Regions from separate parts of the Homo sapiens genome. Here region 1 is linked to region 2. Evidence: fine-mapped expression QTL. Tissue or cell type: whole blood. Region 2 holds a variant in brackets; the other region holds the start of a gene. All regions are shown on one strand. Distances are between the middles of the regions.

Region 1 (4,160 bases), 60 kb after region 2:
CAGGCTGGAATTATTTCCCTGTGTCCCTAGAGCTCAGTGCCAAAGGGGGCAGCCTAAGGGGGCTGTCATTTTCACGCTAACCTTGACCCGAAAAGTATTCATTCATTTTGCAGTGAGGGAGAGCCACCACCGCCCCAAACCGCGAAAAACCAACCAGTAACAACTTTATCATTCCTTTTTAACAGTCACAATGGTGGGCAAATGAGACTTAAGTTACAGCAGCTAGCTGGCACTCACACTCCCCTCGGCTCAGGCTCCTTAAACAACAACAACAAAACCCTAATGCAAGCACCCACCGGGGCTCACAATGTCAAACCCTTACCTGGCATAGGGAAAATCCAAGTGAGAGAGAGAGAGAGAGAGAGAGAGAGAGAGTGTGTGTGTGTGTGTGTGTGTGTGTGTGTGTGATTCCCTCTTTTACCTTCCAAGGCCTTCAACTATTTTTCCCCCTGCAGCATCCAAGCCCAGCCTCAAGGCAGATGCATAAACATGCCTGCTCCTCCCCTTCTACGGTTGGGCAAAACACCCCCCCACCCCCTTTCCAGGACCCCAAGGAGAAAGAATCACGTCCTCTGCAGCCCCTCCCTGGCCCTCGCCCACCCCCCGTTTCCCCCCCGCAATTCCAGGCCGTCCGCAGCAAGCCTCGTAGGCACCTTGAGATAAACACCCACTAATGATTTTATGATTTTCTGCTCTGGGTAACCGCGCTCAGCGGAATCCCTCCCCCCGCCGTGGCGACGGGGCCGGCCCAACCGAGGGATGGGGGGATGGGGGCGTTTGTTTTTTCCACGGCCTCGTCCCCACACCTGTTTTTCATTCATTCATTCGTTCGTTCCTTCATCCATTCACGGATCCGTCACTGCAGCCGCCCCAGCCCCCCGGATTTCGGGGAGGGGGCTGCGATGGGGGAGGGGGTGGGAGATGGGGGGGACGACAGAGGTGGGGGGTGGCGCACCGGGGGGTGGAAGGTTGCGAGGGGTCCGGGAGCCAGGACCCTGCGGCTCCGGCTTTGTCAGACGCGAGCGAAGCGGCGGCGGGGGCGGGGCGGGGGCGCTCCCGGGGCCCGAAGTTGTTTTCCGAGGCGCGGCGGCGAGGACAGCGGCCCGGGGTGCGCCCCCTTTGTCTGTCCCCGGCCGGCGCCGCGTCCCCGCGCGCTTACCTGGTCTTGGAGGACAGGAAGGCAAGTTTGATCAGGCCGTAGGTGAACAGCGGGATACTCTCCTTGGCGACGCTGGCAACTTGCAGCCGGTGCTCCAGGATGTGGAGTTCCATCGTCCGCCCGCGCCCCGTCCGCGGCGGCTCATCCGCGGGGGGACGAGCCGCGGCCCCCGCCCCCTCCGCGCCCTGCCGGCACCGACAGCCGGCCCGGAGACCCGGGAGCTCGGCGCCGGGCGCGGGGGGCGGCGGCGGCCGGGCCGGGCCGGACAAAAGGGAGGAGGCCCGCCAAGTTGCAAGGGGGAGCCGCGGGGCGAGGGAGGCAGCGCCGGCGGAGCAGCAGCCGAGGGGCCGAGCGGCGGAGCAGCGGCGCGCGGCGCCCGGCGCGGGGAGCAGCTGGTGTTCGCTGTAACAAACAACTTGCCACTCAAACGCCGGTCCCCGCTGCGCATGCGCGGCCCGCGCGCGGCCTGCCGGGACTTGTAGTCCGCCTGGGGGGGGGCTCCCCCGGTGCTGTTGCTGCTGTTGCTGCCGCGGGGGCTGGGCGGCCGGAGCTACCGGCAGCCCGGTGCACGGGAAATGCAGGAGCGCGGGCACCCTCAGGACTAAGGGGAAGGCCGAGGGGAGGCACGGGGCGGGTGGAGCCAGCCTGAGCCTAGGCGCGCCCTCTGGCACCCAGTCAGGCTCGGTACTAGGTGCTTGGAGTGTAAAGCGAGCAAACCAGACGACTCCGGTGCTGGAGAAGGCCCGAGTCTGGGAGCGCCAAGATGTAGGGCAATCGGTCATGAGAGTGCAGAGAAGCCAAACCGAAAAGCTTGCTGGGGACCCGGAGGGAGGGGATTGACAGGTCAAAGGGGGTGACCCGGGGGAGGGGACACTCAGGCTGGGTTTTGAAGGATGAATGGGAGTTCGTAGCAAGAGAGTGAGGGCGCGCGGATGGAGGACAGAGGCCTTCCAGGCTGCAGGAACAGCGTGTCCTAGGGCACAGAAGCGTGAAAGCCCCCACGGTGCTGTGTTTGGCTTTGTTGCAGCGGAAAATGTGAGGGAGGAGAGAAAAGAGATAAGGCAGGCATAGTCACCAGGAGTCAGGTCGGGAGGGTCATGTGTGCAGAGCTAATGAGGTGGCCATTTATCCCACTGGAGAGGGGGTGATGGGGACTGCGAAGGGTGAATTCGGGGAAAATGTAAAGTGCGTCTGAGGCACTTCCAACCCCAGGGCCCACGCGCCGGGACCACAGAGGTTCCTCCTTCATGGCTGTCTGGTTTTGAAATGTTCTGGGTTAAAGTGATTGGTGCTTCCACCTTTGGCAGAGTAATCTGGGGACGCGATGGGTGAGATCTATCTGCCAGGGCAGGCTGAGAACTCTCTTTCAGGGGAAAATTGCAGTTGTGCTCCCTCACCTTCCCTCAGCCCTCCTCTGTTAGGTAGGAACATACTAGGTTTTGTCATTTCCACAAAAGGGTGAAAAGCCTGTAATCTGTGGTAGATAGATCTTAGAGCATGCATATCCCCCTCCCACTTTATTTTCTTTTACTCTTTTTCTTTTATTTATTTATTTTTTAGAGACAGGGTCTTGCTCTGTTGGCCAGGATGGAGTGCAGGGGCGCAATCATAGCTCACTACAGCCTCGAACTCCTGGGCTTAAAAGATCCTCCCACCCCAGCTTCCCCAGCAGTTGGGACTACAGTTATGCCTGGCTAATTTTTTTTTTTTTTTAACTTTCTTTTTTCCCCCCCGAGATGGAGTCTTGCTCTGTCGCCCAGGCTAGAGTGCCATGGCGCGATCTTGGCTTACTGCAACCTCCTCCCCCTTGGTTCAGCGATTCTCGTGCCTTGGCCTCCCAGCTAGCTGGGATTACAGGTGCTGGCCACCACGGCTGGCTAATATTTGTATTTTTCGCAATGTTGCCTAGGCTGGTCTTGAACTCCTGACCTCAGGTGATCCACCCACTTCGGCCTCCCAAACTGCTGGGATTACAGGCATAAGCCAATAAGCCACCATGCCTGGCCTTTTTTTTTTTTTTTTTTGAGTCGGAATCTTGCTCCATCACCCAGGCTGAAGTGCAGTGGCACGATCTCGGCTCACTGCAACCTCCCCCTCCGAGGTTCACGCCATTCTCCTGCCTCAGCCTCCCGAGTAGCTGGGACTACAGGTGCCCGCCACCACACCCGGCTAATTTTTTTGTATTTTTAATAGAGACAGGGTTTCACTGTGTTAGCCAGGATGGTCTCGATCTCCTGACCTCATGATCCGCCCGCCTCGGCCTCCCAAATTGCTGGGATTACAGGCGTGAGCCACCACACCCGGCCTTTTTTTTTACTTTTTGTAGAGAGGGGTGTCTCACTATGTTGTTCAGGCTAGTCTCGAACTCCCAGCCTCAAGTGATCCTCCAGCCTCAGCATTTTTTTTTTAAAGCTTATCTGTCTCTCCCCTACACAATCTCAACTCCACAAAGGCAGTGATTTTTGTCTGTTCTCCGCTGTGTTCCCATTGTCAGCAATAGTGACTGGCCTATGAGAGACACTCATTCAATATTTGTGGAATGCATCAATGCACCTATCTATGCCTTTAGAATCTAGAGATCCAGAAATCCCAAACAGAAATGCATTCAGGGGCCAGACAGATTACACAGATGTGTGAAGCAGTTGGCTATCAGATAGTTGGAAATGTGGCTGGGCGCGGTGACTCACGCCTGTAATCCCAGCACTTTGGGAGGCCAAGGAGGGTAGATCATTTGAGGTCAGGAGTTTGAGACCAGCCTGACAAACATGGTGAAACCTCGTCTCTACTAAAAACACAAAAAAATTAGCTGGGCATGGTGGTGCCTTCTCCTGAGGCAGGAGAATCGCTTGAACCCAGGAGGTGGAGGCTGCAGTAAGCTGAGATCGCGCCACTGCACTCCAGCCTGGGTGATAGAGTGAGCCTCCATCTCAAAAAAAAAAAAAAATGTTGGAAATGGTACAGGTGAAGGGAAGTCTGCCTGAAGGCATAAAATTCAGTTTCT
Region 2 (4,139 bases):
TGTTCTGGAGTTTTGTGCAAAACAAATTAACTTAAAAAAAAAAAAGTTGGTTTCTAATTAATGTGGTGGGCCTTCAACACCCACAAGGATTTTAAAGAACAGCTTCTCCTTCTGGTGGGCTTCCAGGGCTCAGAGGGTCCCACTCAGAGAAGCAGGGAACACTTTGTCAGGACTAGAAAATATCCCTTCTCCTCTGACCACAGAAACAGCACAACTCGGCTGGGTGTGGTGGCTCACGCCTGTAATCCCGGCATTTTGGGAGGCCGAGGCAGGCGGATCACTTAACTCAGGAGTTCAAGACCAGCCTGAGCAATGTTACGAAATCCCGTCTCTATTAAAAAATACAATAACTAGCCAGACGTGGTGGTGCGTGCCTGTAATCCCAGCTACTTGGGAGGCCGAGGCAGGAGAATCACTTGAACCTGGGAGGAGGAGGGTGTAGTGAGCCAAGATCGTGCCACTGCATTCCAGCCTAGGCAACAGAGCCAGACTCCCATCTCAAAAAAAAAAAAAAAAACCCCCGCCAGAGCCAAAACCACAGGGGCCCTTGGTCCTGCTCATTCAGAAAACCACCCCACTGGAAGGGACACCACGGCTAACCCCATGCCTCCTGGACATGACCACTCAGCTGGCCTGCCACCTGGCTGTCCACCTCCCCATGGCCCTCGGGTTCCCTCACCCCCTCCGGTGCTCAGATAGAACTACAGCTGGTTGGTGGGAGTTCCCATGTGGGGTGCCAGCGGCTCCAGCGTCTTGTAACAGATCTCTGCTCCTAGCTTCCCTTCAGAAGAGAGGGCCCAGGCTCCTGTGACATCTCCCGATTCCCACTGCCTGTCCCTGGAGCCACAGAGCACCAGCTTAGTGACACAGAGCCTCCAGGCTCCCTTGACAGAACTCAAACAGGTCCTATCCCTGCCAAACAGAAACTACCGCCAAGAGCACCCTGGGTGCAAATACATTAAATAAAAAACTAAAACAAAGTATGGTTTTCTCTATTAAGGCTCAGTTAAGCTGCCTCCTGGGTCAAGTACTCATGAATGCCACAGCCCCCAGCCAAGGGGCGGGTGGGCAGGCAGGTGACTTGGGGGCAGAGGAGGGAGGAGGACGGCGGGGAGTCCTATGCTGGTCTAGTTGTCTGTTGGGGAGGTGGGACACCACCTAAGAAACCTCAGGCCTGGAAAGCCAGGGATGTCCCTACTGGGGGAAGCTGAGGCTCTACCTGCCCAAGTCGGGTCCAGGGAGAGCCGAGGGGACAGGAGCTGGTGCTCCAGGCTGGTGGGTCTCCTGGGACCCTCCCTCCTCCCCCAAGGACTGAGTGCTTGTGGGGGAGGGTCTGGACAGGGCCCTCTTGGCAGTCTTGCTGGGAGTCGGGCCCAGGCCCTGTGGTTGGCAGGCGAGGTACAGGGGGAGTCTGGGTCCTTCCCAGCTCGGGGATCCCACCTGGGTTCCTGTCTGAGCCTCACCAGCCCCGATGACCTGAGGGGGCCACGCTGGCCTCCACTCCGAGGGAACCAGCCCTGAGCTGATGGAAGCAGAGACCAGTGACCACAGTACTCACCCCCAAACCCTCCAGGGCACCCCAAACTCGGCCCCACCCCGCCAGCCCCAGCCCTGCAAGGTGACATGACAGCTGGCACACCGGTGTCTCGCAGGAGGGACCGGCTTCCCTCGGCATCTGCCCCTGGCCGTGGGTGAG[G/T]CCGGATGAGAAGGCGGATCAGCTCACAAGCTCCCTGGGCCTCCGAAAGCATTTTCCGGGGTGGGGGAGGTAGGGAAGAGAAAGGTCGTTCTCTGGAGGGTCGGGGGGCTCCGGGAAGGCAGGAGGGCATGGAGAGGCCTTGGCGTGGGCCCCTGCCCTGGAGGGATTGGCAATCGAGGGAGTCTCCCACAGAGGCCCCTTCCTCAGGGTCCCCAGGCTGATTTTCCAGTCTGTAGAGAAATACTGCAAGATCAATCTTCAGGGTTAGGGCTGGGCCCGGGCGGCGGCAGGGAGGAGCAGAAGAGACCCTTCTAGTGCTTCTCTGCTTGGCTGACCTTCAGGGCACTGATGACACCATTGATGTTCTCTTCGGGGACCTGTGCAGGGGTAGAGGAGGCAGATGCCTGCCCGTGAGCCCAGGAACCTGCTTCCCCACCCCGGCCCTGCCCTGGAGGGGTCTGGCGCTGGACACTCACAAGTGCATGATCAAACTTGAAAGTACTGATGTAGTAGGCTGGGATGTCTGCAGCAGCCAAGGGCTCTGAGATCTGGGCCACGATGCCACACTCATCTAGAACAGGAGAGACCGTCCTTAGCCTCTGTGTAACCTGGCTACCCTTGCCTGTGTGGCTCTTCAGCCTCTACCCTCTGTGGGCAATGCCTACCCTGCACCCACCATCCTCCTAGAGAATTCCCATCTGCTATCCCTTTTATTTTTTTTGAGATGGAGTCTCGCTCCATCGCCCAGGCTGGAGTGCACTGGCGTGAGCTCACTTCACTACAACCTCCACCTCCTGAGTTCAAGCAATCCTCGTGCCTCAGCCTCCCAAATAGCTGGGATTATAGGCGTGTACCACCATGCCCAGCTAATTTTTTTGTATTTTTAGTAGAGATGGGGTTTCACCATGTTGGCCAGGCTGGTATCGAACTGCTGTACTCAAATGATCCACCCACCTCCACATCCCAAAGTGCTGGAATTACAGGCGTGAGCCACCGTGCCTGGCCTCCCACTGGCCATCCCTCTTGAAGGCTTAACCCAGATGTCCCCCAACCAGGAGCCTTCTCTGGTCGCTGGCCAGTGAAATAGTTTGGCTTTGTGTTCCTGCCCAAATCCTCCAATTGTAATCTCAAGTATTGGAGGTGGGGCCTGGTGCAAGATGACTGGATTATGAGGGTGGATTCCTCATGAATGGTTTAGCCTCATCCTCTTGGTACTGTTCTCGTGACAGTAAGTCCTCACGAGATCTGGCTATTTAAAAGTGTGGCACCTTGGCTGGGAGTGGTGGCTCACGCCTGTAATCCCAGCACTTTGGGAGGCCGAGGCGGGTGGATCACTTGAGGTCAGGAGTTCGAGACCAGCCTGGCCAACATGGTGAAACCCCATCTCTACTAAAACTACAAGAATTAGCCGGGCGTGGTGGCACGTGCCTATAGTCCCAGCTACTTGGGAGGCTGAACCCAGGAGGCGAAGACTGCGCCATTGCACTTCAGCCTGGGCAACAGAGCAAGATCCGGTCTCAAAAAAAAAAAAAACAAAAAACAAAAAGAAAAAAAAAATGCTATCCACCAAAGACGTTGTCTGGACAACTGTGGAAACAGAGGAAAGACTAAGTCTTAGGGAATGACTGAAAATTTTCTCCTGTGGAATCCTGTCATTGTGGTTATATAGGAGAAAGTGTTTCTTCTTTTTTTTTTCTTTTTTTGAGGTGGACTCTCGCTCTGTCGCCCAGGCTGGAGTGCAGTGGCGCCATCTCGGCTTGCTGCAAGCTCCGCCTCCCAGGTTCATGCCATTCTCCTGCCTCAGCCTCCCAAGTAGCTGGGACTACAGGCGCCTGCCACCACGACCGGCTAATTTTTTGTATTTTTAGTAGAGACAGGGTTTTGCTGTGTTAGCCAGGATGATCTCGATCTCCTGACCTTGTGATCCTCCTGCCTCGGCCTCCCAAAGTGCTGGGATTACAGGCGTAAGCCACCTTGCCCGGTGCTTCTTCCCAGGATGGAAAAGGCGAGGCATTTAGGAGTAAAGTGTTGGGTGTCAGACTCTCTGGGAGATATGTGACAATTACATGTATTTACGTGAAGAAAACATGTTAAAAAATTGCCAGCAGTTATTATCTTTGAGCTGTGGAAATAAGGAGTGATTTTTTTTCTCTTTAATTTTTATCACAGCCCCAATTTATTCTTTTTTAAATTAAATTTATTATTATTTTTTGAGACAGAGTCTTGCTCTGTTGCCCAGGCAGGAGTGCAATGGAGCGATCTTGGCTCATCGCAACCTCTGCTTCCTGGGTTCAAGCGATTCTCCCATCTCAGCCTCCTGAGTAGCTGGGATTACAGGCGCACGCCACTGTGCCTGGCCAATTTTTTGTATTGTTAGTAGACATGGGGTTTCGTCATATTGGCCAGGCTGGTACTCCTGACCTCAGGTGATCCACCTGCATCG

What was found. PIP is the estimated chance that this variant, and not a neighbour inherited with it, causes the effect.
Region 1: CASTOR2 starts here. The variant in region 2 is fine-mapped to the expression of CASTOR2 in whole blood (INTERVAL, PIP above 0.99).

What each region holds. Positions count from the first base shown.
Region 1 is chr7:74,962,098-74,966,257 of GRCh38, reverse strand. CASTOR2 (cytosolic arginine sensor for mTORC1 subunit 2) reads right to left here and starts at 1,553. Exons shown (of 9, transcript NM_001145064.3): 1 at 1,160-1,553. The coding sequence starts at 1,272. RefSeq lists a silencer at 1,706-1,815.
Region 2 is chr7:75,022,568-75,026,706 of GRCh38, reverse strand. CASTOR2 (cytosolic arginine sensor for mTORC1 subunit 2) reads right to left here. Exons shown (of 9, transcript NM_001145064.3): 8 at 2,173-2,267; 9 at 1-2,073. The coding sequence ends at 2,008. Among named protein-coding and RNA genes, the nearest start is that of RCC1L, 49 kb to the left of the region's middle. The variant G/T (reference allele first, on the strand shown) is at 1,697.